Linked DNA regions of Homo sapiens: all the other regions are linked to region 3. Evidence: fine-mapped expression QTL. A gene starts in region 3. Each other region holds a variant in brackets. All regions are shown on one strand. Distances are from middle to middle.

Region 1 (2,685 bases), 48 kb after region 3:
GCTCACACCTATAATCCCAGCACTTTGGGAGGCCGAGGCAAATAAATCACCTGAGGCCAGGAGTTCGAGACCAACCTGGCCAACATGGCCAAACACCGTCTTGAATGAAAAAATACAAAAATTAGCCAGGCATGGTGGCGCGCACCGGTAATACCAGCTACTCGAGGGCCTGAGGAATGAGAATCATTTGAACCCAGGAAGTGGAGGTTGTGGAGATTTGAGATCAACCACTGCACTCCAGCCTGGATGACAGAGTGAGATTCCCATCTGGAAAAAAAAACACAAAAACCTGCATCTGCATGGCTGGTAGATACCTGAAAACATGCACACCCTAGAAAGTAGGCAGGAAAAAAGCAGAGAAATAATTCAGTTCTACTTCCTACCCAACAGATTGGAAAAATTAATAATCATGGCCATACCCAGTGCTGAGAATATAAGGAAAAGAGCACCTTCATACATTGTTATTGAATATGTAAGTTGCCACAGCCTTTAGAAAAAAATCCAGCAATATTTATTGTTTTTATTTATTTTTTTTTTCTGAGACAGAGTCTTGCTCTGTTGCCCAGGCTGGAGTGTAGTGGTGCAATCTCTGCTCACTGCAACCTCTGCCTCCTGGGTTCAAGTGATTCTCCTGCCTCAGCCTCCTGAGTAGCTGAGACTACAAGTGTGTGCCACCACACCCAGCTAATTTTTTATATTTTTAGTAGAGATGAAGTTTCACCATGTTGGCCAGGCTGGTCTCAAACTCCTGACCTCAGGTGATCTGCCCACCTCGCCCTTCCAAAGGGCTGGGATTACAAGTGTGAGCCACCATGCCTGGCCCAAAATCTAGCAATATTTAAAATAAACCAGGCATGGTGTTTATGCGTGTAATCCCAGCACTTTGGAAGGCTGAGGTGAGAGGATCACTTGAGGCCAGATGTTCGAGACCAGCCTGGACAACATAGCGAGACCCCTGTCTCTACAAAAAAAAAAAAAAGAAAAATATTTGCTGGAGGTGGTGAAGTATACCTGTAGTCTCAGCTTTTGGGGAGGCTGGGAGGTCTCTTGAGCCAAGGATTTCGAGGCTGCAGTGAGCTATGATCGCACCACTGCATTCCAGCCTGGGCGACAGAGAAGTACGTTTGTAAAAGTATCCATGCCCTTTGACCCTGCATTGCTCCCTGTGGACATCTGCCCCATCGAGGTACCGGCGCCAGAAGGCAAGGAAAACGCATGCACCAGATCACTGACTACAAGACTTCAGTGAGAGGAAACAAAATTACCCGAATCCCTAGGAGGAATGGTAATAAAGCGTGCTACCCCTCCGTTAGGAAATACTATGCAACCACGTCCAGCATTTGTCCTGAACTCCATCAGGCTCGCACTTCCTCTGCAGCACCCCTGGAGGAAGTCTCCAGCAGCTTCCTGGGCGGTGGCTGCACCTCCTTCCCGATCTCCCCACGTCCACCCACGCCCAGGGTGTGTTCTCCGCATGGCAGCCAGAGGGAGCCTTTTCAAACCTGAATCTGGTCGCGTTCCCCTGCGTCAGGCCTTCCAGTGTCTTCGAAGATAAAGTTCATCCTCATTCACTAAGCTCCAGGGCATGGCTTTCTTCCTGCCCCTTCAACACTGAGCGCCCTTCCTCCAGCCTC[A/G]GGGCCTTGGCACCTGCCGTTTCCTTCGCTGGAAGCACTGTTTCTGCAGAGGTCTCCCCTGGCAGCTAATCTAAAGCAACCCCCACTCCTGCACCCCTGAGTTTCCATCTCATCGCTATTATTGTCTTCATAAAACGTATCGCTACTTGCTTATTGTTAAGTCTCCAGGACTGGACTATAAAGTCCAAAAAGGCTGAGAAAGCTTGCCTGGCCTGTCTTATCCAGGGATACCAGGGGACGTACACTTTACCCGGCACACAGTAGGTGCTCAGTGCATGCACGGAACCTGACATGAGGCCCTCAGGAGTTAATGAATGGTCAGTTGCAGAACCTTTCTAAGGAATCCATGTTTTTCTATCTGCTTGATGAAACAAATAACTGGGAGTATTCGTTTCAAATGGCAGATTCCCGGCCCCGTCACTGACCTACTGAACGCGAATCTCCGGTGGAGGGGCCCAGGGCATTTGTGATTAGGGGCAGGGAAATGTGCTGGCGCAGCCCCTTCCAAGGGAGCTTTCTTCGCAGGCAGGTTGTTGAGGGTTGCCTGGGTCCTCTTCCAAGCTTTTGTAACCACGTGACTGTAATTTGCCCGAAAAAGGCGGAAAAGTCTGGAGATGCCGGGGATTGAACCCGGGGCCTCATACGTGCAAAGCATGCGCTCTACCACTGAGCTACATCCCCTACCCCTTGTGTTGGTCTTTTCTGGGGATGGTGATACAGGAAGTGCCCTTCGCTCTGCTAGTTCAGGTGCCTTAGCTTCGGAACGTGCAGTGCCTCCAGCCACTCAAAGGGGCCTCTACCCGCCTTGGATAAGCCCAGCAGCCAGGGTGCCCGGCGCGGAGCCTGGATGGCCCGGAAAGGTTAGGAACGATAGCGAGAGAATGGTATGGACATAAGAAGGGAGCTGCAGGGAACACAGTACGGCTTGTCCTCGTTAGTATAGTGGTGAGTATCCCCGCCTGTCACGCGGGAGACCGGGGTTCGATTCCCCGACGGGGAGGCCGGGTACTTTCGTATTTTTAAATACAGAGGGGAGACTTTGTTGGCGATG
Region 2 (2,685 bases), 37 kb after region 3:
TAACCCTAAATCAATACTTGGGGAGCTTTTCCAGGAACAAGGGAATGTGCACATGAGCAGGGCACTAACAGATTCGAGCTGCCAGCCTGCACCCTCCCCCACCAGGTCGTCGCTCGGTTTCACCTTTTCCCTGGCGATACCCCCTGCCATTTTCCATCACCGCTGTGGCCTGGACCCCTCTTCCCTCCCACATGTCCCCCAGACCCTTCTCATGCAGAAGGATGAGGCCTTGCCCTGGACTCTACCTCAGCTCAGCAGCACAAATACTTCCTGCCACCAACACCCAGGGAAGCTTGAGAGGAAGGAAATGTCCTCCAACATATGGCAAGAGGACGATGCGTAGAGAGGGCAGCGTGGACACTGGGTCTCTTCTGGGCAGGCCACGTTCTTGCACCCAAGGCTAGTGGAGAATTTGCCTTCCATTTAAGCAGATCCCAAGGTTTGATGCCAGAATTGATGGCTCTCTTCCGGCCGATCCTTCTCCCAGCGCCAGGTGCATGGTGGTGGCCCTGTCACCATGCTCTGTGTCCTTCTGGCTGTGGCTTTCCAGAGCAGCCCCATTCCAGGTGCAGCAGCTTAGAATTGCAGTCAGCCTCCAGACAGTGCTGGTTACAGTGGCTTGGTGACATTAGACCTTTATTGTTGCAAGGAAGAGAAGTCACTTGAGTCAGCAGCCCAGGGCGTTTCTCTGCTGCCATCCTCCTGCCATTCGCTGTGCCTTCCATCCTAAGGTCACCTCTTGGGCTGAGGAGGTAGTTGGAGGCTTAGTCACCTCTGCCTTCCAGGCAAGAGAAGGGAAGGATGAGGCCAGGGCACCCGCCGGCTGTCCTGTTCCCGTATTGAACGTTCCCAGGAATTCCAGCCGCAACTTCCTTCTTCACATCATGGACCAGAACTGAGTCTGAGGCCACCTGGGTGTTAGGGGAGGGCTGTCTCCTCGAAGAATGCTCTGCTGCCCAGGCAGGATGTGGGGCTTTGTCCCAAGGGAGAAGGAGGGAATGGGGGGGCGGCTGCAATCCTGCCTGCTGGGGGCTTTGGGTCCTGCTGGTGGCCTCTGGGGAGGGGTTGAGACAAGCAGGTGGCTGAGGCTAGAGCACTGAGCATGGTTGGGACTTTCTAGGAGGTCAGGGCAGAGCTGGCTCCGGGCCTTGCCACCACC[G/A]ACCTCACTCTTGGTTCTCCCCTCAGTCAATGCCGTGTGCCCCGAGGCTGAGCTCTTCGTGGATCCCAAGATGCAGCCGCCCACCGAGAGCCAGGTGACCTACCTGCGACAGATCGTGACGGCAGGCCTGGGGGACCACTTGGCCCGCAGGGTCCAGAGCGAGGAGATGCTGGAGGACAAGTGGAGGAACGCCTACAAGGTGCGGCCCCCACCGCCTCCCTGCCCGGGTAGCTTGGGGCACCTGGTGAGGGGCAGGCGGGCTGGGCCCTCAGGGTCTGGGGAGGCTTGTTCCCTCTCAGCTGTGGGTCCCCACTGAGGAACAAGTGGGGCTTGCAGTAGAATCACATCTTCCTTGGTTAGTTTCTCCCAACTTTTTTTTTTTAATAACAGTTTAGTGGAGATAAAATTCACACAGCATTTAAACTCTTTTGGGGTTTTTTGTGTTTTCTAGAAACAAGGTCTCGCTCTGTTGCCCAGGATAGAGTGCAGTGGCACAATCATAGCTCACTGCAGCCTCGAATTCCCAGGCACAAATAACCTTCTCGCCACAGCCTCCTGAGTAGTTGGGACTGCAGGGGGCACACCACCACCTCCGACTAATTTTGTTGTTGTTGTTTTCTTTTTTGAGACAGAGCCTCACTCTGTTGCCCAGATTAGAGTATAGTGGTGCGAACTCAGCTCACTGCAACCTCCACCTCCTGGGTTCCAGCAATTTTCCTGCCTCAGCCTCCCAAATAGCTAGGATTACAGGTGTGTGCCACCATGCCCAGCTAATTTTTGTATTTTTAGTAGAGAAGGGGTTTCACCATTTTGGCCAGGCTGGTCTTGAACTCCTGGCCTCAAGTGATCTGCCCACCTCGGCCTCCCAAAACGCTGGGCTTACAAGCAGTGTTACCCAGGCTAGTCTTGAACTCCTGGCCTCTAGGAATCCTTCCACCTTGGCCTCCCAAAGTGTTAGGATGACAAGTGTGACCCACTGCATCTGGCCTGCATTTAAACCCATTTAAAGTGTTCAATTCAGTGGGTTTTAGTATTTTCACAGAGTTTTGCAACCATTATCATAGTTAACTTTAGAACATTTTTATTACCCAACAAAGAAACCCCACATATGTAAGCTGTGAGTCCCCAGTTCCCCGTCACCCCCGTTTTCATGATCCTGCTTTCCATCTGTGGATCTGCCTGTTCTGGACATTTGGCATGAGTGGAATCTTAACATACATGGCTTTTCATGTCTGGCCTCTTGCACTTAGTGTGATGCTTTCAAGCCCCATCCACGCCATGGCAGGTGTCGGTGCTTCCTTTTTTTTTTTTTTTTGAGAAGGAGTTTTGCTCTTATTGCCCAAGCCGGAGTGCAATGGCGTGATCTCAGCTCACTGCAACCTCCACCTCCCGGGTTCAAGCAATTCTCCTGCCTCAGCCTCCCAAGTAGCTGGGATTACAGGTGTGTGCCACCATGCCCAGTTAATTTTTTGTATTTTTAGTAGAAATGGGGTTTCACCAACATGGTGAAACCAGCCAGGCTGGTC
Region 3 (2,685 bases):
AGGTCAAGGCTGCAGCGAGTGGTGATTGCACCACTGCACTCTGGCCTGGCCCACAGGGCGAGATCTCATCTCTTAAAAAAAAAAAAAAAAAAGTCGGGCGCGGTGGCTCATGCCTGTAATCCCAGCACTTTGGGAGGCCCAGGCAGGCAGATCACGAGGTCAGGAGTTTGAGACCAGCCTGGCCAACATGGTGAAACTCCGTCTCTACTAAAATACAAAAACTAGCTGGGGGTGGTGGCGGGCACCTGTAGTCCCAGCTACTCGGAAGGCTGAGGCAGGAGAATCGTTTAAACCCGGGAGGCAGAGGTTGCAGTGAGCCGAGATTGCTCCACTACACTCCAGCCTGGGCAACAAAGCCAGACCTTGTCTCAATAATAATAATAATGCATTGTTTCCCAGTGTGTTACAATGTGATGCGGTAATGGGAATTTAAAGTTATGTAATAGACAACTTTATTTTTTTTTTTTTGAGACAGAGTCTAGCTCTGTTGCCCAGGCTGAAGTGCAGTGGTGCAGTCTCGGCTCACTGCAACGTCCACCTCCCGGGTTCAATCAATTCTCTGCCTCAGCCTCCCAAGTAGCTGGGATTACAGACGCCTGCCACCAGGCCTAGCTAAATTTTTTTTGTATTTTTGGTAGAGACGGGGGTTTCACCATCTTGGCCAGGCTGGTCTTGAAATCCTGACCTCGTGATCCGCCCGCCTCGGCCTCCAAAAGTGCTGGGATTACAGGCGTGAGCCACCGCGCCCGTAGAGGCCTCCTTTTAGATCTTCCATCTATCCCTGTGATGGAAATATTTGGTGCCTTTTTAAAAGTACACGACTAATACGTTTCTTGTAGGAATATCAGAAAATACAGATGCGCAAACCAGGGTTGGGGGGAAGAAGTTTGGAGTACTGGGGGCGGGGTATATTTTAAAAGGTGGCAAAACACTTCCACTCCCAAGAAGCCAAATTAGTATCAGTAGATATAATTCATATTTAAACCCAGACTACCCCAAGCGAGAACAGCCCAGGACTTAAACTCCGGCCTCCGCTGGGACCTCAGGCCCCGCCTACTTCTCTAAATAGTCCCGCCCCCTGCCCGGCCCGGCTCCGCCTCTCCTCTTCGCTGGGTTTCTCTTGCAACCCCGCCCCTCAGCGGCAAAGTCAGTTACAGTTCTCGCGATAACACAACCCGGAAGTCTCACGGCCGGAGTTGGTGGTCTGGGAACCCACGTGGGCTGGGTTTCGGATTGCTCTGCTGGTCCGGCCGCTGGAGCGCCCACCCTGGCCTAGTCGCCATGGGGAAGCTGCGCCGGCGCTACAACATCAAGGGGCGCCAGCAGGCGGGCCCCGGACCCTCGAAGGGCCCCCCCGAGCCGCCCCCCGTGCAGCTGGAACTGGAGGGTAAGACATCCCCGGACCGGGGCTGGATTTCGGAGATTTCCCAGGGCGGCCTGTGCCCTGCCTTCAGGACTCTCGGGTGGGGATCCCAGAGGGGTGGGATGGATCATCTGGAATGGGGGAATGGGTCCCCCCATTCCAGATGATCCAAAGGAGAGGGGCTTAGTGACAGCCTAGTTTTAACAGTGTATATGGAATACCCGGGATTTCTCTCGCCCTCAAATAGTAACATGGAGAATTTGGCAAAAAAAACAGGAGTAGTTCCATCCCTTCCCATGACTTCGATTATAATCTCTTTATAATCTCCAGCGACCCCCAAATGTGTATTTTCAGCCCAGTCTTGTCTGCTCAGCTCCAGGCTGGCTGACATTTCTCTCAGACCCCTTTTTAGGAGTAGCCCTTATTACATGCCAGGCACTATTCTAGGCACTGGAGACATAGCAGAAAGGGAGATTTTTAGAAAATCCCTGAGTTTACCTGCTGTATAGGAGGAGACAGGCAAAGAATAAACATATAGAAATTTATGCGGCTATAGTGAGCAGATAAAACAGAAGAGGCCATTGGGTGGGTTGCAGCATCCCATAGAGTTGCTGGAGAAGACATCACTCTGTTAGAGTCAAGATCTGAAGGAGACCTGAGTGGCTGCCTGGAGATGAGAGAAAAAACAGGGGGCCAGGGCAGGTCGGGCCTGGACTGCAGTCTTGGCGAGGACTGGGGCTTTTTCTCTACGGGAGAGGGCAGCCATGGGAGCATTTAGAGCAGAGGAGGCGTGGTGGTGGGCACCTGTAGTCCCAGCTACTTGGGAGGCTGAGGCAGGAGAATGGCTTGAACCCAGGATACGGAGGTTGCAGTGAGCCAAGATCGCACCACTGTACTCTAGCCTGGGTGAGAGAGCGAGACTCCATCTCAAAAAAAAAAAAAAAAAAAAAAAAGTTCCACAGACAGGCTGGGAGTTGAGGCAGATCCCCTAACATCTCTGTGCCTTCGTTTTCACATCTGCAGAATGGGACCAGTAGCACACGTTGAGCAGCCTTAATCCAAAATACTCCAAAATTCAAAAGTTTTTGAGTGTCAACATGACACTTAAGGAAATGCTCATTGGAGCATTCCAGATTTCAAATTTTTAGATTAGGGATGCTCAACCAGTGAATAGAATACAGATGTTCCTAAAGCTAAAACAGGTCTGGTTCCTAGCATTTCTGGAAAGGGATATTTAACCTGTAGTAGCCGTCTTACCTCCTATCAGAGTTTTGGAGATGGTAATTTGGGAAAATATGTTGCTTTGAAAAGTAAAGAAAGGT
Region 4 (2,685 bases), 890 kb before region 3:
GGTGGGAGGGATAACCTTAGGAGATACACCTAATGTAAATGACGAGTTAATGGGTGCAACACACCAACATGACACATGTATACATATGTAACAAACCTGCACATTGTGCACATGTACCCTAGAACTTAAAGTATAATAAAATATATATATATATTTTAAAATACATGCAAATAACTCAGAACAAAGCCTGTATACATTATGGGCTCAAATACAACTATTATTGCTGTTACTGTTATTAAGTTTTTGAACCCAACTCTTTCTAACCCTTTTGTAGAGGGTGTGTTGAATAGAGATCTATCAAAGCCACTTCTAAGGTTCTACCCAACCTGGCGATCTGTAAATTTTTATTTTTTTTAACTTTTATTCTAAATTCAGGGGTACATGTGTAGGTTTGTTACACTGGTAAACTTGTATCATGGGTGTTTGTTGTACAGATTATTTCATCACCCAGGTGTTAAGACTAGTACCCATTAGTTATTTTTCCTGATCCTCTCCCTCCTCCCACCCTCCACCCTCTGAAAGACCCCAGTGTGTGTTGTTCTCCTCTATGTGTCCATGTGTTCCCATCATTCAGCTCCCACTTACAAGTGAGAACAGACAGTATTTGGTTTTCTGTTCCTGAAATAGTTTGCTAAGGATAATCCTAAGTGTAATAATTCTGGGATTAGTGGTACATATGCCAAAAACCAACTATTAAAATATACAAAAGAGAAGAAGAGCAAGTTGCATTTTTAAAGTTATTGAGATAATTTTAAAACCTCGTGTTTTCTAAAAATATTTAATAACATGGGGAGATGCTTAAAATATGCCAAGTTTGAAAAGCAGAATGAGTCTAATTATTAAAACCTCAGAAAAATAAAATCCATTTCTAAAAGTTCATGAACATTATTTATGAATATATGTATTTCTTTCTTTCTTTTATGCCTAAACTAAGCACTAACAGTAAATAAATCAAAATACTAATCATGGTTATTTCTATTGGGAGTAGAGGTAATATTTCTTTTCTTCCTTTTGTTTTTCTTTAGTGTCTTTTTTATTCCTATAATAAGCAATAGGCTTTTATAATTATGATGCCTTCAGGGGCGGGCCTGGTGGCTCACGCCTGTAATCCAGCACTTTCGGAGGCCGAGGCTGGTGGATCACGAAGTCAAGAGTTCGAGACCAGCCTTGTCAACATGGTGAAACCCTGTCTCTATTAAAAATACAAAAATTTGCCAGGCGTGGTGGCACAGGCCTGTAATCCCAGCTACTCAGGAGGCTGAGGCAGGAGAATTGCTTGAACCCAGGAGGCGA[A/G]GGTTGCAGTGAGCTGGGATTGCGCCACTGCACTCCAGCCTGGGTGACAGAGCGAGACTCCATCTCAAAAAAATAAAAAATAAAATAATTAGGTTGCCTTCAATAGCAAATAAAATTTCTTGACCCAGTGATATCTGACTATGCAGAAATGTAACTGGCACTTTCAATTGGCCGTCTGCATGTCAGCCACAGTATAGACCTGTGCTAGGACACTTTTCATGCAACACAAGTGGCATGACAGGATATTCAGGATTTGGATGCAATAGGACATATTCTTATTCCTAAGGTGCCACAGACAAAATTAACACATTCCCAATTTATTTTTCTTCCCACTTAATTTTAGAGCAGAACATCAGGCCTAATTTATCAGAATCTTTTTTATTACTGATTAGCAAGGCATCGGATGATGATGAAAGGGGATAATATCACATTTGCACTCACTTCATGAGCAATGGCTCTATTTCGCTGATGGAGCATTTCCTTTCTTTCCTCATCAAATGCAGCTCAAAGGTTTGTCTCTGTAATGCACAGATGCCAGATGCTCTCCCTAATTAGTATCTCATGCTCCACAGTGACAGTCCCCAAACTTTGTCCATCATTTGCCAACATGAGGGCCTGGATTCCTTTCTCCATCCCAAGTTCCATAGCAGCCTCTTTTGCTGACCTTACAGCTGCTGGCTTTGTGGACTATTATTTGTGGGAGGCTATTTTCAGTGTCTTCTATTGAATATAGGGTTGGTGTGGTCATAGGTGATCACAAACTGCAGCTACATGGGTGGCAGGGTCCAGGGACCCTGAGAATCAACCCTGGAAATGCCCCCTCTTGCTCCAGTTTCTCACTGCAGCCCCTCCATTTTGAGCAATCAGTCATCATTGGTAACAGTCTCACCTGCCAGGACAGGGGAAGAGTCAGATACGGAGAGTCTTCTCTGGGGAGCAACTGACCATCCTTGGTGGATAGACCATTTAAACAAGTATGACAGTCACCAGGACATTTCACACATATTTTGTCTTCTGAGCCTAAGCCCATTGTCATGGACTGAATCTTTGTATTCCCCAAAATTCATATATTGGTGACTTAACCCCAGTGTGATGGTATTTGGAGACAGGGCCTTTATGGAGGTACTTATGTTCATAAACATTCATGAGGGTGGAACCCTTTTAATGGCATTAGTGCCCTTATAAGAAGAGGCACCAGAGAGCTTGCTCCTTCTCTCACTGTCTCTCCACCATGTGAGGACACAGTGCGAAGGCATACATCTGCATGCCAGGAAGCAGGCCCACACCTGGAACTGAATCAGCGGAACCTTGATCTTAGACTTCTCAGCCCCCAGAACTGTGAGACATAAATGTCTTAGTTCTTTAAGGCTAATATAACAAAGTAACACAAAA

Direction of the effects. Alleles are on the strand shown, and positions count from the first base shown. SD is a standard deviation of normalised expression in the study named. Not every link is listed here.
As copies of A replace G in region 2, the expression in lymphoblastoid cells of the gene that starts at base 1,173 in region 3 goes up (small effect, 0.25 SD a copy in GEUVADIS).
With allele A in place of G in region 4, the expression in monocytes of the gene that starts at base 1,173 in region 3 is lower (large effect, 0.78 SD a copy in Kim-Hellmuth 2017).

What was found. PIP is the estimated chance that this variant, and not a neighbour inherited with it, causes the effect.
Region 1: its variant is fine-mapped to the expression of DHX37 in tibial nerve (GTEx, PIP above 0.99).
Region 2: its variant is fine-mapped to the expression of DHX37 in lymphoblastoid cells (GEUVADIS, PIP 0.95).
Region 4: its variant is fine-mapped to the expression of DHX37 in monocytes (Kim-Hellmuth 2017, PIP 0.95).

The regions. Positions count from the first base shown.
Region 1 is chr12:124,939,596-124,942,280 of GRCh38, reverse strand. TRD-GTC2-10 (tRNA-Asp (anticodon GTC) 2-10) reads left to right here and starts at 2,563; the gene lies at 2,563-2,634. TRA-TGC4-1 (tRNA-Ala (anticodon TGC) 4-1) reads right to left here and starts at 2,315; the gene lies at 2,244-2,315. RefSeq lists a silencer at 2,521-2,600. The variant A/G (reference allele first, on the strand shown) is at 1,635.
Region 2 is chr12:124,951,071-124,953,755 of GRCh38, reverse strand. It overlaps DHX37 (DEAH-box helicase 37), which reads left to right. Exons shown (of 27, transcript NM_032656.4): 21 at 1,186-1,358. Among named protein-coding and RNA genes, the nearest start is that of TRA-TGC4-1, 12 kb to the right of the region's middle. The variant G/A (reference allele first, on the strand shown) is at 1,160.
Region 3 is chr12:124,987,619-124,990,303 of GRCh38, reverse strand. It overlaps DHX37 (DEAH-box helicase 37), which reads left to right and starts at 1,173. Exons shown (of 27, transcript NM_032656.4): 1 at 1,173-1,387. The coding sequence starts at 1,282. RefSeq lists a silencer at 1,260-1,469.
Region 4 is chr12:125,874,134-125,876,818 of GRCh38, reverse strand. No RefSeq gene overlaps it. Among named protein-coding and RNA genes, the nearest start is that of LINC00939, 110 kb to the left of the region's middle. The variant A/G (reference allele first, on the strand shown) is at 1,294.